7 linked regions of the Homo sapiens genome follow. Changing the gene in region 4 together with the main gene of any one other region gives a genetic interaction. Each region holds a gene or a part of one and is shown on either strand. Other genes may lie near its edges.

What was found.
Region 1: changes in PTAR1 (region 4) and PI4KB are lethal when combined (synthetic lethality), as found in Homo sapiens cells (one study listed by BioGRID).
Region 2: changes in PTAR1 (region 4) and SPTSSA are lethal when combined (synthetic lethality), as found in Homo sapiens cells (one study listed by BioGRID).
Region 3: changes in PTAR1 (region 4) and SLMAP are lethal when combined (synthetic lethality), as found in Homo sapiens cells (one study listed by BioGRID).
Region 5: changes in PTAR1 (region 4) and PPP2R2A are lethal when combined (synthetic lethality), as found in Homo sapiens cells (one study listed by BioGRID).
Region 6: changes in PTAR1 (region 4) and MARCHF6 are lethal when combined (synthetic lethality), as found in Homo sapiens cells (one study listed by BioGRID).
Region 7: changes in PTAR1 (region 4) and SEC24A are lethal when combined (synthetic lethality), as found in Homo sapiens cells (one study listed by BioGRID).

The regions. Positions count from the first base shown.
Region 1 is NC_000001.11:151,320,917-151,324,416, reverse strand, and holds part of PI4KB (phosphatidylinositol 4-kinase beta), read left to right. Parts: intron 1-3,500. UniProt on the Homo sapiens protein: Phosphorylates phosphatidylinositol (PI) in the first committed step in the production of the second messenger inositol-1,4,5,-trisphosphate (PIP). May regulate Golgi disintegration/reorganization during mitosis, possibly via its phosphorylation.
Region 2 is NC_000014.9:34,452,241-34,455,740, reverse strand, and holds part of SPTSSA (serine palmitoyltransferase small subunit A), read left to right. Parts: intron 1-3,500. UniProt on the Homo sapiens protein: Component of the serine palmitoyltransferase multisubunit enzyme (SPT) that catalyzes the initial and rate-limiting step in sphingolipid biosynthesis by condensing L-serine and activated acyl-CoA (most commonly palmitoyl-CoA) to form long-chain bases.
Region 3 is NC_000003.12:57,857,309-57,860,808, forward strand, and holds part of SLMAP (sarcolemmal membrane-associated protein), read left to right. Parts: intron 1-424; coding exon 425-520; intron 521-779; coding exon 780-851; intron 852-3,390; coding exon 3,391-3,500. UniProt on the Homo sapiens protein: Associates with the striatin-interacting phosphatase and kinase (STRIPAK) core complex, forming the extended (SIKE1:SLMAP)STRIPAK complex.
Region 4 is NC_000009.12:69,725,512-69,729,011, forward strand, and holds part of PTAR1 (protein prenyltransferase alpha subunit repeat-containing protein 1), read right to left. Parts: intron 1-3,500.
Region 5 is NC_000008.11:26,354,008-26,357,507, forward strand, and holds part of PPP2R2A (serine/threonine-protein phosphatase 2A 55 kDa regulatory subunit B alpha isoform), read left to right. Parts: intron 1-460; coding exon 461-626; intron 627-3,500. UniProt on the Homo sapiens protein: Substrate-recognition subunit of protein phosphatase 2A (PP2A) that plays a key role in cell cycle by controlling mitosis entry and exit. Involved in chromosome clustering during late mitosis by mediating dephosphorylation of MKI67.
Region 6 is NC_000005.10:10,437,195-10,440,694, forward strand, and holds the end of MARCHF6 (E3 ubiquitin-protein ligase MARCHF6), read left to right. Parts: 3' UTR 1-3,194; downstream 3,195-3,500. UniProt on the Homo sapiens protein: Endoplasmic reticulum membrane-associated E3 ubiquitin ligase that plays a critical role in mitigating endoplasmic reticulum stress, the regulation of cholesterol and lipid homeostasis, and ferroptosis.
Region 7 is NC_000005.10:134,651,785-134,655,284, forward strand, and holds part of SEC24A (protein transport protein Sec24A), read left to right. Parts: intron 1-3,500. UniProt on the Homo sapiens protein: Component of the coat protein complex II (COPII) which promotes the formation of transport vesicles from the endoplasmic reticulum (ER).

The sequences.
Region 1 (3,500 bases), on a different chromosome or scaffold from region 4:
TGAGGTCAAAGGGGAGAGATGAGTTGAGACATCCTTAAAGAAAGGTTTGAGTTAGACATTAAGACATGAGGAGGAACTCCTCAACAGCAGAACAGGCAGTCAAAGATGATATGGAGTCTCTTTTGAGGAGCAACCTCTCTTTAAAAATTATTTTTGGGCTGGGCACCGTGGCTCATGCCCGTAATCCCAGCACTTCGGGAGGCTGAGGTGGGCGGATCACTTGAGGTCAAGAGTTGGAAACCAGCCTGGCATGTTCGAGACAACATGGTGAAACCCCATCTCTACTAAAAATACAAAAATTAGCCAGGTGTGGTGGCGTGTGCCTGTAATTCCAGCTACTCGGGAGGCTGAGGCAGAGAATCACTTGAACCTGAGAGGCAGAAGTTGCAGTGAGCTGAGATGGCGCCACTGCACTCCAGCCTGGGTAACAGAGCGAGACTCCATCTCAAAAAAAAAAAAATTTTTTTTTGAAGGAATGCATGCATTTGGTAACAAATCCAATGGTACTCAAAGAGTTTATGAAGAAAAACAGCAGTCCTGTTTCCGTTCATCCCTACTCCTGTTCTCGCAGAGTTAACCTCCTTAATTATCTCAGTGTTCTGAAGGTTATCACCATAGCTTTAGATAAAATGCTTGTTCCTCTATTTCTTTGTTTTTTTGTTTGTTTTTGTTGTTGTTTTTGTTTGTTTGTTTGAGATGGAGTCTCGTTCTGTCGCCCAGGCTAGAGTGCAGTGGCACGATCTCGGCTCACTGCAACCTCTGCCTCAGGGTTCAAGCAGTTCTCCTGCCTCAGCCTCCCGAGTAGCTGGGATTACAGGTGCCCGCCACCACGCCTGGCTAAGTTTTTGTATTTTTTGGTAGAGATGGGGTTTCACCATGTTGGCCAGGCTGGTCACGAACTCCTGACCTCAGGTGATCCACCCACCCCGGCCTCCCAGAGTGCTGGGATTACAGCGATCTCAGCTCACGGCAACCTGCGCCTCCCAGGTTTAAGCGATTGTTCTGCCTCAGCCTCCCGAGTAGCTGAGATTACAGGCACCCGCCACCATGCCTGGCTAGTTTTTTATATTTTTTAGTAGAGACGGGGTTTCACCATGTTGGCCAGGCTGGTCACAAAGTGCTGACCTCAGGTGATCCACCCGCCTCAGCCTCCCAGAGTGCTGGGATTACAGGCATGAGCCACTGCACCTGGCCATTTGTTCCTCTATTTCTTTACTTATTGTTACAAACAAGGATTTAGCTTTAGAGGATATACCTCTCATTTATATAATTATGTCATTTTTATTTCTTCTACTGGACACCTGTATAACTTTAAATAATATTTAATATATTTGAACCTTTCTTTCTTTTCCATTAACTTTTGACAGTCTCTCTTAATTCACCTTGTAGAATGAACGTCAGATATTGGTTTCCTTACCCGTTTTTCCATCTCTTGTGGATCCATCTCAAAGGACTGTGAGATGTATAAAAAAAGGATAGAGGAGACTAGTTGTGGTGGCTCATGCTTTGTAATCTCAGCACTTTGGGAGGCCTAGGCGGGAGGGTAGCTTGAGGCCAGGAAGAAGCTTTCCTCCTTGGAAGCATCCCCAACCAGAAATCGTATAGTGAGCCATGATTCCACCACTGCACTCCAACCTGGGCAACAGAGTAAGAGCCTGTCTCTTAAGAAAGAAAAAGGAAAAAAATAAAAAGGCAAGGGGTGGGGAAATAAAGGATCCTTTAAAAGGAGGAAAATTGAGCCAGCCTGCCTGCTTGGAAGCAGGGCACTAGATCAGATGATCTCTTAAAGCCATTCTATGAAAATATAAGAACATAAAAATATCAGAATTGGTGCAAACCAATCCATATTTATCTAGTCCATGGAAAAAATTTTGAAAAAGAGAATGGTGATTAACTGGGTGAGGGGATTGATTTGGGGCTCTTTACCATTCTGTCCTAGCAGAGACTGATCCAATAAGTCCTTTAATGGAGGCCAGTAGAAAGTTGTTTGCCTGGAATCTTTTGAGGTGATAAGAAATGGGGAGCTAGGTTAAGCGATAGCATCTCCTCCCCAGAGAGTCCTCTGCAGACATGTATTTTAACTGCTCAGTCACACAGAACATATGTGTATATCTTCTGTGTCTTCTCCAGCTGCTGCTCTGTGTGACCTGTAACAATTCCTTGTCACTCAGACCAGAATTCCCTACTTTGCCCAGTTGGGAGCTGTGGAACTCAGTCAGTTGTCAACTTTTCCTAGGGGCCAGCTGTTAGGCTGTGGAACAGGGGAGGCCTCTTCCATTTCCCTTCCAGTCTGACTGGAAGGAGAATTTAGGTTCCCAGTGTGAAGTGTAGAGCCTCAGTTGTCTGAACCCCCTTGAAGGCCATAGGAGTCATTTAATATTAAAAATTTAGATTGTCTTCCGTCACTTTTTTCTTATTCCTCTGACTTAGAAGGGGAAGGCTGTTGAATACAGGACTTTTTCCTTCACCTTTTCTTTTGCTTTCCAGTCCTTTCATTTTCTTTAGAACAGTTACCCTCAAAGGCTTTTTTTTTTTTTTTTTTTTAAGACAGAGTCTCACTCTGTCGCCCAGGCTGGAGTGCAGTGGTGTGATCTCGGCTCACTGCAAGCTCCGCCTCCTGGGTTCATGCTATTCTCCTGCCTCAGCCTCCCAAGTGGCTGGGACTACAGGTGCCCACCACCATGCCCGGCTAATTTTTTGTATTTTTAGTAGAGACGGGGTTTCACTGTGTTAGCCAGGATGGTCTCCATCTCCTGACCTCGTGATCTGCCCTCCTCAGCCTCCCAAAGTGCTGGGATTACAGGCGTGAGCCACCATGCCCTGCCCACAAAGGCATATTTTCTTGGCATTCAAAACTAAATGAAGCAAGCTGGGCATGGTGGCGGGTGTCTGTAATCCCAGCTACTTGGGAGGCTGAGGCAGGAGAATCGCTTGAACCTGGGAGGCGGAGGTTGCGGTGAGCCAACATTGCGCCACTGCACTCCACTCCAGCCAGGGCAACAGAGCAAGACTCTGTCTCAAAAAAATAAATAAAATAAAAATAATAGTAATAATAAATAGCTAAAGCAATTTAACCCTATTCCCTACAACACCTTCTTCTCCATATGACTTGCTTCAGATGCAGGCAGTGCCTGGGTTCCTGAGAGGCCAGGGAAGAGACCCAGCTCCAGTTTGGTGGTTTCTAGTGGTAGAGCTGCTTATATAGGAGAGGAGTCTGTTTTTTCCTGCACCTCTCAACACTGTCTAGCTCCCTGAGGAGTAAAAGCTGCCGGGAGGGAGAGTCTGTTCAGTAGCAAAATCCTCTGAATACTGTGATGTGATTCTTAGCTGAGCCCTGGGAGTTTTTCTTTTGTCTGTGAGATAAAAGAGGTGATAGTATCCTTATTTGCCTTCCTGGTGCCAGTAATAATCCCAATCGTAGTTAATTGGGGCAGGCATCTGCTAAATTTTCTAGTGAGGTCTGAGACACTATTATGTGGGAGAATGTCTGAACTGTATTT
Region 2 (3,500 bases), on a different chromosome or scaffold from region 4:
AGGCTGTTCTTGAACTCCTGACCTCACGTGATCCTCTCCCCTCAGCTTCCCAAAGTGCTGGGATTACAGGTGTGAGCCACCGCGCCTGGCCTAAAAGGACTTTTTTTGCATCTCAATATACTAATTAAAGTATTTGGGAGTTTGGAAAATATGAATTTTAAGTTGTAAATAAAATAGATTATACATCCTTATGGTTGAAAACACAAAAGATACAAAAAGGTAGTTGGTGACACAGTCTTCCTTCCACCCCTGCCTCGGCCACCCTGGGACAACCAGTGTCAGCAGTTTCCTATGCATCTCTCCTGAGATATTCTGTGAATATATAAAAAATATACTCCTTTTTTTTTTCTTTTTTTGAGACAGTTTCGCTCTTTTCCTCAGGCTAGAGTGCAGTGGTGCGAACTTGGCTCCTTGCAACCTTTGCCTTCTGGTTGCAAGCGATTCTCTTGCATCAGCCTCCCCAGTAGCTGGGATTACAGGTGCCCGCCGCCATACCCTGTTGATTTTTTGTATTTTTAGTAGAGATGGGGTTTCACCATGTTAGCCAGGGTGGTCTCAAACTCCCAACCTCGTGATCCGCCCACCTCGGCCTCCCAAAATGCTGGGATTACAGGTGTGAGCCACCTAGCCCGGCTCCTATTTTTTTTTTTTCTCAAGATGGAGTCTTGATCTGTTACCTAGGCTGGAGTGCAGTGGCGCAATCTTGGGTCACTGTAGCCTCCGCCTCCTGGGTTCAAGCAATTCTCCTGCCTCAGCCTCACGAGTAGCTGGGATTACAGGTGCCTGCCACCACACCCGGCTGATTTTTGTATTTTTAGTAGAGAAGGGGATTTACTATGTTGGCCAGCCTGGTCTCGAACTCCTGACCTCAGGTGACCCACCCACCTTGGCCTCCCAAAGTTCTGGGATTACAGGCATGAGCCACTGCACCTGTCTGGGAAATGAACAATTGTAAGATTAGGAAGTAATGTGGGAGAAGTGAATACATTTATAAGGGAGGATGGGAAGGACAACCAGCAAACCACAAGAATTCTCAGACAGATCAAGCTCTGGGAGTACGGTGGAAGCAGACCACCTTTAACCGGATTCTCCTTAAACTATCCTAACCTCCTGGAAAGTTGTCTTGTTAACTCCAGGGCCCTACTGCTTTAGTTTGAAGAAAACTGCTCTAGCCTGTTTAACATGTTAGCCTTTATATTTGGCTGATTCAGTGAGAATGTTAGGATATCTCTTAACTGTACTCCTTAGAATATTAACTTTTTCTTTAGTAGTTTTTGGTTGGTAAAGGTTGAAAATAATGAAAACTGTGCTTAACAAGAACTAAATGGTCTATACCAGGACAGGCAGAGAAAGTCATGGTTGGGTTAATGGCAGTGGGAACAGACCACACATTGATATTCTGCAGCAGTGTTTCAGCATGTGATTCTAGTGATTTGTGAGTAGTGATCACTATAGGTCCTGTCTCCATTTTCTTAAAGACTTTGTGATTCCTCCAGACTATGAGTGTTGTAACATTTATGGCACATAGGAGCTAAGATAGATTTTTTTTTCCCCCTAAAACAGGGTCTTGCTCTGTTGCCCAGGCTGGAGTTCAGTGGCTGGCATGATCTTTAGTTCACTGTACCCTTGAACTCCTGGGCTTAAGTGATCTTCCCGCCTCAGCTTCCCAAATAGTGGGGACTACAGGCACACACCACCATGCCTGATTAATTTTTAAATTTTTAGTAGAGACAGGGTCTCACTAGGTTGCCTAGGTTGGTCTTGAACTCCTGGCCTCAAGCAGTCCTCCTGCCTCAGCTTTCCAAAGTGCTCGGATTACAGGTGTGAACCATCGGACCTGGCCTCTTTTTTTTTTTAAAAGAACAAACCCCAAATGCTCAAATTTAGTAATTTAAGCTATGTGTTCTAGAAGATGTACTTGATAGAGGATATATACTTTTTATAAATTGGAATGTTGAAAAAATAGTAGTTATGATCAATAGTTATGAGAAATAGAAGTTTTACTAATACAAGCGTTTTGGTCAGCATGTATTATATATGTTTCTGAAAAACTGCAAAATAATATGGTTTATAGGAAAATATTATTGAGTCAGACCACTTAAAATGTATGCAATTTAGTAAGCAAGCACTAACAAACACAATACTTGGCATCTTGAGGGAATAACTTGGATGTCCCAGACAGGCAGGCAGCTCAGCTTCACTGGAAGCTGCCCGAGGGGACATGAACAAAGCATGGACAAAGTTGAATGGAAATGTCAGCAGTAGGTGCTGATGTAATACAGACAGTGTGGGCTGCCATTGAGGCAGTGTAGGGCCAGTGCCACCTGCCACATTGGCTGAGAGCTGTGCTACCCTGGAGGTGCCTTTCTCTGAAGAGGGAGACTGGGTACAAATGCGAATTTCTGATTTTCTTAAAATAGAGTTAAAAGGACTTCTGCCTGTATAGCAGCTGAGTTGAGAGATGTTTCCTGCAGAAGGTGATACAGTTGACCCTTGATCCACTTGGGGGTTAGGAGTACTGCCCCCAGGCCCTCATCCTCACCCTGCAGGCAGTTGAAAATCTGTGTACAACTTTTGACTCCCCAGAAACTTTACTAATAGTCTACTTTTGACTGGAGCCTTATTGATAACATTAACAGTCGATTAACATATTTTGTATGTTATATGTATTATATACTGTATTCTTATAGTAACGTAAGCTAGAGGGAAGAAAATCATAAGGAGGAGGAGGAGGGGTTGGTCTTGCTGTTTCAGGGGTGGCAGAGGCAGAAGAAAATCCATGTATAAGTAGACCTGCACAGTTCAAACCCATGTTTTCAAGGGTCACCTAATTATTTTCCCACTAATCTGCTCCCCTAAATGATGAAATATCCCATATGAAGGAATATAGCTCCTGTACTGTACTAGTCGTATGTGAGTTATCTGATGTTACAGAAACATGTACTGTAGCAGAACAGATTATAATTCAGAGCAGACTGGGAAATTTTTCCCCATAACACTGGGACTTCAAATCTTCCTGAGGGTAATAGAAGCTCAAATCAATAAATGTGTGCCAGAGACACTATAACCTTAGTGTCTCTGGGATTAGAGCTACAAACCATTTCCAGGATTTTAGTCCACAGTGAAAAATTTTCAGTCCGTGATCATTACTCATTTCAGCAGCATGCTTTGTTGTTTGTTTAGTTTTAAAAGAGCTTGTCATCAAGTTGTAGTTTCTAAAAACAATTTTCATACTTAGGTTTGTATAATCAGCACACTATAGAAAGCTTAGAGAATGGATTTTGCTTGCTAAACACTAATTTCTGATGGTGATGTGCTATCCTTTAACATGACCCTTGAATATCAAATTGGTTAACATACAGAGGACTGTGACAGTATAATATTGTGACAGTATAATATTTTCCACTTGTTTCAATGTAAGAAAACTGGAAAAGTATCAAGAGATAGTTGATATATCTAGGAAAAATTAACTTTCTTTTTTTTTTTTTTTTTTTTGAGAT
Region 3 (3,500 bases), on a different chromosome or scaffold from region 4:
AGTAGATGCCTGAAATCACAGATAGTACCAAACCCTATATCTACTATGTTTTTTCCTATATATACACATACCTATGATAAAGTTTGACTTATAAATTAAGCATAGTAAGAAATTAACAATAATAATAAAATAGAACAATTACAACAGTATACTGTTATGTGAATAAAAGTTATGTGAATGTCAACATTCTGTCTGTCTCTCTCAAAATATCTTGTACTGCACTATAACTGAAACTGTGGAAAGGGAAACCAGAGATAAGCGGGGACTGCTGTATGTTTTACAAAGTACTATCAAGTTTCACTACTTTAAAATACATCAAGTGGGATGTAATATGAAAATATTTTAGAATATGCTGAAAATTGATCACTCCTCAAAAGAATCATGATGAGCTTATTAGAATCTGTTTTGTGATTTGTAATACTAGGAGGCCTTACATCGGGAACAAATGTTGGAACAGAAGTTAGCCACGCTTCAGCGGCTACTAGCCATCACCCAAGAGGCTTCAGATACCAGTTGGCAGGTATTCCAGTTGTTTTATATTTAAGAAACATTTAAACATAGTTTAATATTCCATACATGTTAAATAAACTAAAATGTAGCAAACAAAGACAAAGTTATTTCCTAACTAATGAACAAGTTGTTGAAGATTTAGCATTTTACAGTGGATGCTGGTCAGTTTTACGCTTTTATATCTTTTGTTGTCAGTAGCAACCTTTTTTTATATACATGTGACTTTATAATTACTCGGGTTTTACTTACATTTAATTTTTCTTCAATAGGCTTTAATAGATGAAGATAGACTCTTATCACGGTTAGAAGTTATGGGAAACCAATTACAGGCATGCTCCAAAGTAGGTATTAACCTCAAATGTGTAAAATGAAATGCATAGTTTTTTATGTAACATCATTTCTTTGACTATCATTTTGAGTATATGCTAAAAACTTCATACATTTCCACAATTCTTTTAAATCTTTTGTGCTGAGAAACGTCAGACATCCATGTAAATAAAAATAATTACATAATGAATACCCATGTACAAGTCTGTCTTTTTTCTATTGCAGTTAATATTTCTTGAAAAAACTGGGTCATTTGTCCTCTAGAATTTCCCTCAGTCTGCATTGTTATTTAAACATTTTTTAGCTCCCCCTCCCACTCCATAAAGTAGTAGTTCCATCTAGAGATTTGATGTGATTTAGGTTCAGTTTTTCTTTTTGTCAACAACACTTTATGGATGGTATTGTGTTCTTCCACCAAGGGACAACATAATGTCTAGTTGTCTTTCTTTTTGAGATTTTTATCAATCATTGATGATCCCAGGCTAGATCCATTATTTCATTACGGTTACAAATAAGGCTGGGCGCAGTGGCTCACACCTATAATCCCAGCACTTTGGGAGGATGAGGCGGGCGAATCACCTGAGCTCGAGAGTTCAAGACCAGTCCAACCGACATGGAGAAATCCCATCACTACTAAAAATACAAAATTAGCCGGGCATGGTGGCACATGCCTGTAATCCCAGCTACTCAGAAGGCTGAGACAGGAGAATCCCTTGAACCCAGGAGGCAGAGGTTGCAGTGAGCCAAGATCGTGCCATTGCAATGTAGCCTGGGCAACAAGAGTGAAACTCTGTCTCAACAACAACAACAACAACAAAAAAGTTACAAAAATAATGATGTAATTCTGTTATTCCTTCACTTATTTAGCTGGGTTACTTCTATAAAGAGAAGTTTCCTTCCATACACAGTGGCTCATGCCTGTAATCCTAGCACTTTGGGAGGCCAAGGCAGGCGGATTGCTTGAGGTCAGGAGTTCAAAACCAGCGTGGCCAACATGGCGAAACCCCGTCTCTACTAAAAGTACAAAAATTAGCTGGACATGGTGGCATGTACCTGTAATCCAAGCTACTCAAGAGGCTGAGACAGAATTGCTTAAACCCGGTGGGGGTGGAGGTTGCAGTGAGCCAAGATCGCACCTCTGAACTCCAGCCTGGGCGACAGAGCGAGACTGTCTCAAAAAAAAAAAAAAAAAAAGCGGGGGCAGTTTGAGACCAGTATGGGCAACATGGCAAAACCCAGTATCTACCAAAAATTAAAGATTTGCTTAGCATAGTGGTACATAACCTGTAGTCCTAGCTACTCGGGAGGCTTAGGTGGAAGGATCGCTTGAGCCCAGGAGTTTGTGATTACAGTGAGTTATGATCGCAGAACTGCGCTCCAGCCTTGGTGACAAAGAGAGACCCTGTCTCTAAAAAAACGAAAAAAGGAAAAACAATGGCCATTGTTTTTTGTAACTTTGGCATCAAAAACCAAATACCACATGTTCTCATTTATAAGTGGAAGCTAAGCTATAGGTATGTAAAGGCATAAAGAGTGCTATAATGGACATTGGAGACTCAGAAGTTGGGAAAGTGAGAGGGGAGTGAGGGATGAAAAACTCCCTATTGAATACAATATACACTACTCAGGTAATGAGTGCACTAAAACCCCAGACATCACCACTACATAATTCATCCATGTAACCAAAAACCACTTGTATCTCTAAAGGTATTGGAATAAAAAAATTTAAATAACCCTGAGGTATGTTTTCTACGGGGAAAGCAAGATAAGTGATTTTCTCCCCTTATTTATTAGATTTCAGAATAATGAATTGGTGGTTTTTCATCTACCAAAGACTGGCCATGAAGTGTTTTCTCACTCCACTTAGATTTAAACATATTTGATGTATTTAAATCTGGTGCAGTTGTTTTTCTTGTTTTAGAGACAGGGTCTTGCTATGTTGCCCAGGCTGGTCTTGAACTCCTGGGCTCACGCAATCCTCCCATCTCGGCCTCCCAAAGTGCCACGGCCAGCCTATTTTTCTTATTGATGCTCAAATTATCCCATCTTTGGTCTGTGTAAATGTCTTCAGAGTGATAGCTTCATGCTGTCATTTCAGACAAGATGTTTCAGGCTCATTTTGTACTTTTCCTGCCCCAGACATGAAGTCTGCTTTTCCCCCATGGTACTCTTATTCCTTTTGTTTTAACCATTGTTTCAGAATGCTTGGTGCCTTTGAAGGTAATTGATTATTTTTGCCTACAAATGTGAATATGGTGGCTTGCAGAAAATATGACAAATATAAAAGTAACTAATTTTGTATATTTTAGGGAAATTCTCAATTGCCTATAACTTTTTTTTTCTATAGGAAGTGGAAATTAGTAAGTTTGTGAAGGCATAATTTACTTATGCAACTTGTAAATACATCTTTAGTTAATACAGGGCCAGAATCATTTATGTTTGGAGGTACCTTAATATATAATTTAAAGTATATCATAATGTGTTAATTTTTTTCAAACAATAAATGCTTTTAAAAAATAACTTGTCTATAATTATAAATATCTTTTATTGTAGAATCAAACAGAAGATAGTTTACGAAAGGAACTTATAGCATTACAAGAGGATAAACATAACTATGAGACAACAGCCAAAGAGTCCCTGAGGCGGGTTCTTCAGGAGAAAAT
Region 4 (3,500 bases):
CCTGGGAGGTATAGGTTGCAGTGAGCCGAGATTGCTCCACTATACTCCAGCCTGGGCGACAAAACAAGACTCCATCTCAAAAAAGAAAAAAAATATATATATATATTTTCAACAAAATCAATTTCTTAAAAAAATTCTTAGGCTTTTAAAGAGAAAATCCACTATATTCTTTTCCCTAAGATATAAAGATGCATATTAGAAACTTTAACTGGAATTTCAGGGTATTCTCTTGTTAGAATAAAAAGATATAAAGATAGAGGCAATGATTTTTTTAAAAAAGACAGCAATTACTTTTAAGTGATCCAGTTAACTTTTAAGTGATCTAAAGATACTATATGAAGATATGGCTTTAATGTACAGTACTGATGGGATAAATGACCTTCGTATGATATACGTTAAATATCTTTCTTTTCCTACTTCCATATGAAAACATGAATAAGTGAATAAATAAACTACAAGAAAACTGCAAATGCAGGGCTATGAAAAAGAGGGATAACGTGCTAAAAATGAAAGACTACTAAAAATACATATGCCATAGGTCCTTTAAACTTTTAAAAATAGTATTTGGGTTTTCTTCTGATTATAAAAGTGATACAAAATGATCAATATAGAAAATTCCAATAATATGGGAAAATATAAAAAAGCAAACAAAAATCATCCATTATTTTGTTGGCCAGAGATCACTACTTGTAACATTCTGGCAGAAAACAAATCTTTCAGGTTTTTTTCTATGTATGCACATGCACAGAGTTTATTTTTAAGAAAAATCTGGGATATTCTTTTGTACCAATTTTATTCTACTTCAATTATAAATACATTCCTATGGCATTAAATATTATTCTATAATTTTTAACTCGTAAAATATTTCACCCTCAAGATTAACAGAATTTAACCATTCCTGTGTTTGTTTCTACTCTTGTATAAGTAACACTCATAAATAAATCTATGTACATATCTAATTATTTAGGAGAAATTTGTAGAAATATACTTGCTGGAACAAAGAAAAAAACTTTATAAAGTTCTTGATATATAAAGTGTCCTGCAGAAAGACTGTATAATTTATACTCCTATTGGAAGTACATGTTAATGCTTATTTCCTAAATTCATCATCAATACTTTAATCTTCACTAATAAGAATCACATTTCATTTTAATTTACATTTCCTTAATTATCATTAAGCCTAAATATCTTTTCTTGTGTGATTACTTTTCCTTTGCTTCTTCATTTATGAACTGCCTATTTTGCCTAATTCTCTACTTTTATGAATTATCTAATTTACTATTTGTGATAGTCATTATTTTTCTTACGAGTTTGTAAGAGGTCTTTACATATTAAAGATATTAAGTCTCTATTTGTCATATGTGTTATAAATATTATTTTCGATATATTACTGCAACTGATTTTTTAAATTCTTTTTTTTTTTTTAAAGATTGGGAGTCAAGTAAAATTCTTTTTTTTCTTTTCTCCCTCAGGTCTATTGAAGAAGTATAAATGACAAATTAAAATTGTGTATATACACACACACACACACACACACACACGTATACACACACATATATATATACGATGTACGACATATTGTTTTTATGTATACACTGTGAAATGATTACCACCATCAAGTGAATTAACTTATCTATCACCTCACATAAGTATTTTATTTTTTGTGGTAAGAACATTTAAGATAACGCTCTTAGAAATCTTTGGGTATACATTATTAACAGTAATTACCATGTTCTACCATTAGACCTCCAGAACTTACTCATCCTAACGGAAACTTTGTACCCTTTAACCAGCAACTCCCTGTTCCCCACCACAACCCCTACTCCTGCAATCACCATTCTACTATTTCCATGAGTTCAACTTGTTTAGAGTCCACCTACAAGTGACACCATGCAATATTTATCCTTCTGCGCTTGGCTTATTTCACTTAGCATAATGTGAGTCTCTTTTCTTCATATAGGTTTTTATTCCATTTAAAGTTCAATTTGGTATTTAAGATTAAAAAAAAAAAACCACCTAACTTTCTATTTTCTAAAAAGTCAATAAATTTTACCAGCATCACAAATTGAACAGGGAATCCTTTCTCTAATTATGTGAAATGCCATATTCATCATTAATGAAATATGTACATATTATGTATTGGAATTTGTTTCTGGACTTTATATTCTGTTCCATTACTGAGTCTATTTTTGAAATAGCATCACAATTTTAATTACTCTGTCTTATTAATAAACATGTAAGTATCTAATGGTAGAGTGTTCTTTATTGTTTTTCCCAACAATTCCTCAGCTATTCTTTAAGCTTTATTCTCTCTAATGTACTTTAGAATCATTTTTGAAGTGAAAAAATAAATCAGTGGTTTTTAATATATTCACAGAATTGTGCAACCATTGCTCTTATCTAATTTCTAATGTTTTCACCACCCCCACAAAACCCCATTCCTATTAGAAGTTACATCCCATTCCCTCCTCCCCAGCCTCTGGCACCCACTAACCTGCTTTGCCTATTCTGAACATGTTATATAAATGAAATCATACAATATGTGGCCTTGAATCTGACTGCTTTCAATCAGCATGTTTTCAAGGTTCATCCACGTTATAGCATGTATCAGTATTTCCTTCCTTTTTTATGGCCAATGTTCTATTGCATGGATACGCCACATTTTGTTTTCCATTCCTCAGGTGAGGTATTATTTTTTGGCTATTATAAATAATATGGCTATTAATGTTCTCATACAAGATTTGGTATGGAATGTGTTTTCACTTCTCTTGGGTATATACCTAGGAGCAGAATTACAGGGTCATATATGGTAATGCATGTTTTTCTCCAAGAATATGATATATATTAACTATAGTTTTATTAATATATAGTGATTCTATGTTTAATTATTTGAGGAAATGCCAAACTGCTTTCCACAGTGGCTGTACCATTTTACATTCTTACCAGCCATAAATAAGAGTTTCAGTTTCTCCACATCCTAACCAACATTTGTTATTGTCCGTATTTTGGTGTGAAGTGGTATCTCACTCCCTGTGGTTTTGCTTTGCATTTCCCTAATAGTAAAGATGGTGAATATCTTTTCATGTCCTTATTGGTGGTGTGGGTAGGTTTTTTGGAGAAATGACTATATGTGCTTTTTTTATGTGAAACTTGTAATTTGCCAGTAGTAATAAACTGCCTGACTGTGAATCTTTCCTGCCACACTACCCTCAAATATAAAAATATTTTAAAATTTACTTAAATGTTTATTTAAGCATGCAGACATCAGAGAGAACATAAAATAGAAAATTAGTGTCATAATTCCACCCTATACTACTTTTAATCAATCTTTATTCTTTAACCTTTTTCTGACTAGAAAACAAATATATGCTTTTATAAAAAATACAAGAAAAAAATCTATAGCATTGTTGTGTGTATGTATTACTATCTGTTCAGCATTTACCATGTGCCAAGCACTGTTTCAAACACTTTAAAGTATTTGCTGTCTCATTCAATGCTAA
Region 5 (3,500 bases), on a different chromosome or scaffold from region 4:
GGACAATACATCATATTAAATAACAGATCGGGGAGTTGACCCTAAAGTGGGCATAGGAAGAAGGTGTGCCTCACCTAGCTCTTTCTGGGCAAGACTTTATCATTATTTTTAGATGAACTTCCTTATTATGGGTGCTCAGTTTTTTTTCATCAGTTTTTTTCATAGACTATACCATCAAATACATAAGAGTAAATTAGCAATCAAATTGATCCATATTTAACGTCATTATTTCCCTAATGAATTGAGCTTATTTATTCAGCTTTATTTAGCCTTTTCCCCCGTTAAGTTTTCTCATTTAATCCTTGAAGGCCTTTAGAAATATAAAAAACAGAATGTAATTGTATAAAGACACAACTAATGGGGTATTGAGAATGTGCAGGGTCCTTTGGAATTGATTACATATTTGATTATTTTGAAATATTTTTCAACAATGGTCCATATATTTTTGTTTTCATTTTAGAACAAAATCCAGTCTCATAGCAGAGGAGAATATAATGTTTACAGCACCTTCCAGAGCCATGAACCAGAGTTTGACTACTTGAAAAGTTTAGAAATAGAAGAAAAGATCAACAAAATTAGGTGGTTACCCCAGAAAAATGCTGCTCAGTTTTTATTGTCTACCAATGGTAAGTATACATATTTTCTTTCCATGTGCCCACTGTGTGTACCTGTTGCACATATCCTGTAGCCTAGGAGAGGAATCATTTAACAGAGATACTTGTAAAAAGGACTTTTGTTTTTCTATACAGAATGTAAACTCTACTTTTTTACTGTCACTTGCAGTTTTTAGATTCTCTGAAAGATTCTCTGATAGCAATTTTTTGTTTACTACACCTCCAATTTGTAGTGAAAAGAATGGGCTGCTATACCATTGGATTTAGGTCAGGTAATATTTCTGTCATTTCTCAGTCTCGTAATCTTGGGCAGGTTACTAACACTGAATTGAATTTTCCTCAGCAGCAAACTAGAGATAGCAATTTTTTATTATAGTATTATTATGAATATTAAATAACTTCACATACATCATGAGTGCAAGTGCTCAATAAATGTTAATTTATTCCTCCTTTTTAAGTGTTTGTAAACTACACAGAGTATCTCAAACTGCAGATACAAAATACTCAAAGGATGGTCTCCATTCCAGGATACGCTATAGGAGAGCACTTTCTTACTTGATCACCATTAGCATATTGCCTTCTTCCCAGCAATCCACATGGCTGGAAGGAGATTCCTCTCCTACTGTTTACTTGCCAAGGGAACATTTTTTGTTGTTTTTTGAGACAATGTCTGTCGCCCAGGCTGAAGTGCATTGGTGTAATCACAGCTCACTGCAGCCTCGACCTCCCTACCTCAGTCTCCTGAGTAGCTGGGACCACAGGTGAGTGCCACCACACCCGGCTAATTTTTTAAAAACATTTTTGTAGAGACTGGGTCTCCCTATGTTGCTCAGGCTGGTCTTGAATTCCTGGGCTCAAGCAGTCTGCCCCGCTCAGTCTCCCAAAGTGCTGGGATTACACGTGTGAGCCACTATGCCTGGCCCAGGAAAAGTTGAGTGAGGATTAAAAGTTAGTAATGACAGGCCGGGCGTGGTGGCTCACGCCTGTAATCCCAGCACTTTAGGAGGCTGAGGCGGGTGGATCACGAGGTCAGGAGATTGAGACCATCCTGGCTAACATGGTGAAACCGTGTCTCTACTAAAAATACAAAAAAATTATCCGGGTGTGGTGGCGGGTGCCTGTAGTTCCAGCTACTGGGGCGGGGGTGCTGAGGCAGGAGAATGGGGTGAACCTGGGAGGCAGAGCTTGCAGTGAGCCGAGATCGCGCCATTGCACTCCAGCCTGGGCAACAGAGCGAGACTCGTCTCAAAAAAAAAAAAAAAAAGTTAGTAATGACTCTACCAGAATTTGAAATCCTTTATGATGAGTTGGGTGCTTTCTCTTTGTTCTTATGAAAAACTTTTTCCTGTGAATTGTTTGGACTTTGTTGGGGTCTTGAGTCTAAAGGGAATCATTAGAGTGACTGAGGAGATACTTTAGTTTCTGGGTAGCCGTAGTCTATAAAAATTTGTGATTAAAACTTTTTTGAGGTTGGTGCTAGGGTGAGGGGAACCTCTTATTTTCTCATCCCCTCACTATTAATTTAAAAAGCAAATTCTAACACCTAGACCATAAACATTTGCAGAATATATACTTAAATGACTTCAGGATGAAATGGGGGAAGAAATTCAGCACTTCCTCCATCTAATTGATGCCCCTCGTCCACAGTATTAGTTCTTAGAAATGCTGTTCACAAATGCCTGATGGCCATCAGCGTTGGCCGCCTCCTGGGTGCCCGTTTTTCTGATCATGAAAGCTTTCCCCAGCCAGTCCATTGAGATGCGTACCCTCTGCCTTCTCTGTTTTCACAATAGACTGCATTCCCCTCTCTTGTCCTTATTAGAAGAAAAATAAAGAGAAGTAACTATTTAAAGCCTGTAAATCACAGCACTATGGGTGGAGGGAACAGTTTATTCCTGTCATATGCTAGCTTCTAGTCTTGGGTCAGTTTTAATTTATATGGTAAACTAAGTTATTTCAAATAGCTTCAAATATTTTAGACACTGTTCTTTGGCATCAGATGATACATAATTAAACCATTTATATAATTTCTACTTTTAGAAGTAAATGTTCCTAGGGAAATGTGTTGTTAACATTTTATATATTGGAATATTTTTATGTCAGTTTATTTCTTATAGGGCTACATCAGCTTTCTTATAAAGAGAACTTTTTAAATGTAGGCTGAGTTCAAGAGAATAGTATAGTGAAGCCCTGCATGCTCATCATCCACTTCTGACACTCCTCAGTTCATGGCTAATTTGTGTCTCGGATCCTTCCCCTTCCCCTCCTCCTCAGTGTTATTTCGAAGCAAATCCGATTACAACGTCTATGGATTAAATCTTGTTTAAAGACATTAGAGAATGCATTGTAGATTTTTGTCTTTTGTTTCTTAATACTAAGTAAAATACAGCTAACTGGGGGCTGCATTTTTTAATGCTAAAATAAGTGCTTAATAATAGAGTCCAATGTGGAAGGATAAAGCAGATTATGAGAATCATATGAACTGTTGTGTCTGGGTAGATGGGAAAAGGATGGGAGGAGTAGGACTTGAACTATATCTGAAAAACTATTTGGAAAGAAGGAGACTTAGAGAAAAATGTCAACATCTGTTGATTCTGAGTGATATCTTTTATATTATTTTGTGTATTTTTCTCTGTGAGTTTTTTCTGTGAGCATAGTAACACCCCCCCCCCCCAATATAATGGGTCTATATAAAAACTATATCTGTGGGAGAATGATGGAAAATAGTACCAAACTTTCCAGGTTTGATTAACCAAAATTAATCTTATAAAAATATTTGCATTGGCTTTCCATGATCATTATATGAACTGGGTTTCCCAGATCATTTTTACTTAAAGGACGTCATAGTCACCTTATAACTTGAGTTAATTTAATGTTCCTTCAAGC
Region 6 (3,500 bases), on a different chromosome or scaffold from region 4:
CTTATTTTCATTTTCAGGGTTGAGTACTCTAAGCTCTCTACTTACTGTGAGAAGTTTTCTACATTGTAAAATTAAAAGATTATATTTAAAATACTTCTTTAGGATGTTATTCAGCCATCAAAAAAAAACCCAACTAAAATGTCTTACCAGTAAAGTATTATTAAAAGCCTCATTTGTGGAGATTCGCTGACTTCCTTGGTTAAGCTGTCTTGTATTTACTTAATTTGTCCCCTCAACCAGGTGTTTTCTTTTCAGCCTGTTACTGTCCTGTGCCATTTTTAAAAATAGCCATCATGAGTAAGGGCTTCTTTAAAATAATCCCTGACAATATCTTTGGCATTAATACGACATAAAGACAAGACAGTATATGTATGTTTTCATTCCTGTTTTGTACGAGTGCCTCATTTTGTAGTCATGAAAGTAACATAGTACCTTAAATAAAAATGTAATGACTAATCTAAGGTCTAGGAATAACTATTGTAGAAGCTAAGTAGAACACTTAGTTTGGGGTGTCAATTTTCTATCAACGCAAACACCTTAGGGTACCCAGACCAATTTTATGTATATATATTCTGAAATGCTCCCTTTTTAATGTGGTCATTTGTTGCCTTCTAAGTTGAGAGGACAAAACTGAATAAAGTGAATGTTAATTGTAGTCTAGTTTTTTTGTTTGTTTTTGTGTTATTGCAAGATTGCTTTAAGATTGCAGAAATATGCATTATTAGCCAGCATAGATAATCCAGATGTTATAATAGGAAGGAAAAACAACTCCAGTTAAATGTGACTGTGGCGACTCCCTTTTATGTATACATTTAAATGCATAGTTGCAGAGGACACATCCCTCCCCTTCTGTCTCCCTAACTTGAACTGTAGACCGTCCTCACTGGGAAGAGTAAGGCCCCACATTTTGTGCAATAGCAAGCTACTGCCCACTTCTGCATGTCTGCTACGAGATCAGAAAGTCAGTTTCACTAAGGTTGTCTTTTAGCTGAATACTTAGAGTAAAACCAATCAAATCCATTGTACATACCTGACCATATGTCCCAGATAAAAAGGAAAGACTTGCGTGATGTTTTTTTCCTTCTGAGTGCCCTGAGGAGATCCTTTTGCTTCAGACTATTTCTAATTTTTCTTTGTTTATAGGTTCAGAATTTTTTCCATGATTGTTTTCCCCCAAACAAGTGCATTTTTAATTACTTTAAATGCAGGGGTGATAGAGGAAATGCTATTCGAACCATAGACATCTTTAATCTGTGAAGCTGAAATTTTTCAGCAAAGGAAATTGCATGGTCAAGTTCAGAAACTGGCCATTAATTTCCCCCTTCCGCTCCACAGTTCATAGCTACTCTTGTTGCAAACATGTAGTGATAAGGAGAACTAACGTATCAAGGGGCTGAGAGGGTAACGTTCCCCTCCTCCTCCATGTTTTTATTTTGGTGTCTGTTTTGTTTCTAGCACTGTATTTAGTACTGTAGTTGAATGAGGTATGATGTCTCCCTTCAAGGAACTCAGAATGGAACAGAAGCATGAGCAAAAGATTGTATTACAGAGGTATGAATAAAATGCCATGGGGAACACAGAGAAAGGTTCACCCGGGAGAGATGGCCTAGCCACTTCCTTAGTGACTGTTTGGTATATGTAGGTCCCCCTGCCATTACTCTTTCAGCCTTCTGCAATCTAGTTCTACTTAGTCACACACTTCTCTAAGACCACTCATACGTAAACACTACGTAGAGGCCCCTTTTTGCCTCATTTTACATTGTTTAGTTATCATTTTGAAACTTTTCTTCACATATGTAACAGTGCCGGAGTTTTTCTGCTTCTCTGTGTTTGTTCAGTAACTCTTCTTTAGGATACACCTAAAGATGAGAAGCTTCATACCCAGTACTCCTCTTCATTCACTCATATGTTTTTGGGATCAGTCCCTTCTGCTGGCTGTGCATTGGTCTAATGGAACAGAATAGAGTCCAGAAATAACCCAACATGTATGTGGACAACTGGTTTTTGACAGAGGTGCAAAGGTCTTGAAAAAATGATGCTGGAATAATTGGGCATCAGATGCAAAATTAAAAACAAATTGATCCATATCTTAACACTGGCAAAGATTAAAGTCCAAATGGATTATAGTTCCCCAAAACTGTATAATTTCTAGAAGACAACAAGGAAAACGTGTTCAGCCTTGGGTTAGGAAAAGATTTCTTAAATCCAACACCAAAAGCACAATCCATGAAGGAAAAATCGATAAATTGTACTTTATCAAAATTGAGAACTTCTCTTTGAAAGGTACCATAAGGAGAACAAAAAGACAAGCTGTAGAGTGGCAGAAAAATATTTGCAAAACATTTCTGATAAATGAGTTGCATCTAGATTACATAAAGAAGTCTCAAAACTGAACAAGTAAACCCATTGTTTACTTAATCGCTGTTTCTCCTGAGCTTGCTGCCTCTGCCCCTGCTCTCTCTCCTTTTCCATTTGTTTTCAACATTGAATCCAGAATGTTCTTCTTGAGATCCAAGTCAGATCACACCAACCCTCAGAACTCTCCAATAGACGACCATGGCACTCAAAAGTCCACAATAGCCTTCAATGCTGGGCAAAACATGAAGCACCCCTTTTCTCCCTTCTCTGACCCCATCACCTCTGTGTTCACCCTGCTCCTGCCGTCCTCCCTGCCTCCAAAACAGGTCAGGCCTTCGTGCCTTTGCACTTACTATTTGCAATACCCAAATGTTCTTCAGGCTCTTTAGCCTCTTCATTTCTTTCCTGAAGTGTCATTCTCACTGAGGCTTATCTAAAGCTGCAGCTACTGGGGCATTCCTGTCTCATCTCCCTGCTGTATTTTGTACTCCCGGCTCTCTTTTGTACTTTTAAACATACTATATGGTTTACCTTTGTTGTTTATATTTGCATGTTGTTTCCCACTTGAATGTAAGCTCCAAAGATTTTATTTTTTTAAACTGAATTATTACTGTATTCCCAGAACAATTCCCTGGCAAATATTTGGTACTCAATAGTAATGCTAAGTTAGTAAATAAATGATGAATTTAGAATCAAAATAATGTGTCTATGGCCAAAATAAAACCTGAAATCCCTGTCCTATTTCCCAGAGGTAACTGCTGTTAATAGTTTAGTTGTGTGCTTCCAGACATACCTTCACAGAATCATTTATCACAATAAAGGTGTCATACTATGCAGATTGTTTGACAAGATGCTTTTTTTCACTTTACACGGGCATCTTTTCATACCATTGTGTGGCCAGGCCATGATTTGTTTTCCAAAAGACATTTACCCAATTTATATGGTGAAGATTTTTGTCCATATTACTTTTTATAGTATTTCTGTAGGGTAAGTTCCCAGAAGTAATATTGCACGATCATCGAAAAATTTTAGTGTTACATTACTGCCCCATAAAGGTACTAATTAACATCCCTCTCAACAACATAGAAGATTCCTTTTTTTTTTTTTCTTTTTTTGGGTGGAGGGGGGCGGGGACAGAGTCT
Region 7 (3,500 bases), on a different chromosome or scaffold from region 4:
CTGCTAATAATACAGAGAGTAGGGATATGGTATCAAGTTGGAGAACAGGATATTTTTCAAGAAGGTGAGAAAACGTTTCAATGCTGGGATCTAGTTTTGCTTAACTATTCCAAAGCAGTAGTTGATGCTTGCATATTCTGTTGAAAACTCTTTTTTTTTTTTTTTTTGATGGAGTTTCACTTTTGTTGCCCAGGCTAGAGTGCAATGGCTCATTGCAACCTCTGCCTCCCAGATTCAAGCAATTCTCCTGCCTCAGCCTCCTGAGCAACTGGGATTACAGGTGCATGCCACCACACCCGGCTAATTTTTGTATTTTTAGTAGAGACAGGGTTTCATCACATTGGTCAGGCTGGTCTCAAACTCCTGACCTCAGGTGATCCGCCCGCGTCGGCCTCCCAAAGTGCTGGGATTACAGGCGTGAGCCACCGCGCCTGGCCGAAAAGTCTTAAGTATTTAATGAAGTTTGCTTAAATTACATATTACAGTATAATTAGATCTTCAGTTTGCTTTTGTTTTTTGTTTTTGAGATAGTCTTTCTCTATTGCCCAGGCTGGAGTGCAGTGGCGTGATCTTGGCTCACTGCAACCTCCATCTCCTGGGTTCAAGCAATTCTGCCTCAGCCTCCTGAGCAACTGGGACTACAGGCATGCGCCACTATGTCTAGCTAATTTTTGTATATTTAGTAGAGACGGGGTTTCGCCACGTTGCCCAGGCTGGTCTCGAACTCCCGAGCTCAGGTGATCCGCCCACCTCGGCCTACTAAAGTGCCGGGATTACAGGCGTGAGCCACTGTGCCTGGCCAGTTTGGTGTTTTTTGTTTTTGAGACGGAGTCTTGCTGTGTTGCCAGGCTGGAGTGCAGTGGTGCGATCTCAGCTCACTGCAACCTCCACCTCCCAGGTTCAAGCGATTCTCCTGCCTCAGCTTCCCGAGTAGCTGGGGTTACAGGCACCTGTAGCACATGCCACCATGCCTGGCTGATTTTGTATTTTGTTTGTTTGTTTTGTTTTGTTTTTGTTTTTGTTTTTTTGAGACGGAGTCTCACTCTGTCACCCATGCTGGAGTGCAGTGGTGCGATCTTGGCTCGCTGCAAGCTCCGCCTCCTGGGTTCATGCCATTCTCTTGCCTCAGCCTCCCGAGTAGCTGGGACAATAGGTGCCCGCCACCACACCCGGCTAATTTTTTGTATTTTTTTTTTTTTTTTAGTAGAGACAGCGTTTCACCATATTAGCTAGGATGGTCTCAATCTCCTGACCTCGTGATCTGCCCGCCTCTGCCTCCCAAAGTGCTGGGATTACAGTTATGAGCCACTGTGCTCGGCCTAATTTTTGTATTTTTAGTGGAGACGGGGTTTCACCATGTTGGCCAGGATGGCCTCTATCTGCTGACCTCATGATCCTCCTGCCTCAGCCTCCCAAAGTGCTGGCATTACAGGTGTGAGCCACCATACCCGTTCCAGTTTCGTTTGTTTGTTTGTTTTTTAAAGAGCCTGGGTCTTGCTCTGTCACCCAAGTTGAAGTGTAGTCACTTGATCATGGCTCACTGCAGCCTCGAACCTCCTGGCTGAAGTGATCCTCCCACGTCAGCCTCCTGTGAAGCTAGGACTACAGGCACATGCCCTGAAACCTGGCTAACTAAACAGTTTTTTTTAGAAAACAGAGCTGCACTCTGTTGCCCAGGATGGTCTTGAACTCCTGGACTCAAGTAATCCTCCTGCCTTGGCCTCCCAAAGAGCTAGGATTACAGGCATGAGCCACAACATCTAGCACAGATATTTTATATATTATAGTCAAAAGACCTCACCAGGTGTGGTGGCTCACACCTGTAATGTCAGCACTTTGGGAGGCCGAGGTGCTAGGATTGTTTTAGCCCAAGAATTCAAGACCACCCTCGGCAACATAGTGAGAACCTGTCTCTACAAAGAATTTTTAAAAAATAGGCATGGTGCGGGCCCAGTAGTCCCAGCTACTGGGGAGGCTGAGACAGGAAGATCACTTGACCCCAGGAGGTCAAGACTGCAGTGAGCTACAATTGCACAACTGCACTACAACCTGGGTGACATGGCAGTATCTTGTCTCAAAAATAAATAAATAGGCCGGGTGCAGTGGCTCACACCTGTAATCCCAGCACTTTGGGAGGCCAAGGCAGGAGGGCTGCTTGAGCCTAGGAGTTCAGACCAGGGTAGGCAACATAGGAAGACCCCATATCTATAAAAAAGTAAGAAAAATTAGTCCAGTGTAGTGGTGCCAGCCTGTGGTCCCAGCTACTCAGGAGGCTGAGGTAGGAGGATCACCTGTGTCCAGGAGGTTAAGGCTGCAATGAGCCATGATCATGCCACTACCCTCTAGCCTGGGCAACAGAGTGAGAACCTGTCACAAAAATAAATAAATTAATAAAAAACAAAAGACCTAACAGTAGCCTTTTTCAAAAAAAAAAAATATATATATATATTTTTTGAGACGGAGTCTCACGCTGTCACCCAGGCTGGAGTGCAGTGGTGCAGATCTTGGCTCACTGCAGCCTCTGCCTCCCGGGTTCAAGTGATTCTCCTGCCTCAGCCTCCCGAGTAGCTGGGACTACAGGCGTGCACCACCATGCTCAGCTAATTTTTGTATATTTAGTAGAGACGGGGTTTCACCATGTTGGACAGGGTGGTCTCAATTTCCTGACCTCGTGATCTGCCTGCCTTGGCCTCCCAAAGTGCTGGGATTACAGGCGTGAGCCACTGCGCCCAGCTGAGAGGTTTTTCTAAGTCTTTGTGTATACATATTTCCTTTGCAAAAATTGATAGCAGACTACAAGACCTTAAACTAATGGATCTTAATCTGATTATCATGTATTAACGCTAAAGGCAAATAATGACTCCCACCATTAATTAGTGCCTTTATTGACTGAATCAACTTGCAAAGCCAGTTAGAAACTGCAGTTTTGTTTTGTTTTGTTTTGGTTTTTCAGAAATGGTCTCACTTTGTCCCCCAGGCTAGAGTACAGTGGTGCAGTCTTGGCTCACTGCAGCCTTAACCTCCATGGTTCAAGCAATCCTCCTGCTTCAGCCCCTGAAGTAGCTGGGATTACAGGTGTGCGTCACCATGCTTGTCTAATTTTTTTGTGTCTTTAGTAGAGATGGGTTTCACCATTTGGCCAGGCTGGTCTCGAACTCCTGACCTCGTGATCCTCCCACCTTGGCCTCCCAAAGTGCTGGGATTACAGGTGTGAACCACTACGCCTGGCCCAGGCTTTCCTAAAGAAACGTACAGCTTTTTGGCCAGGCTGGTCTCAAAATCCTGACCTCAGGTGATCTGCCCGCCTGAGCCAAAGTGCTGAGATTACAGGTGTGAGCCACCGCACCCGGCCACATGAGATTTTTTACTAATGCAGATTCTGGGATCCTTTTGAATCCTATGAAATAGGATTTTACAAAGGTGGGACCTGGGATCTCAATTTGTACCATTATTATAGCAGGTTCCTCTGATTCTGAAGCTGCTGGTTGGGTGGGAAGCAC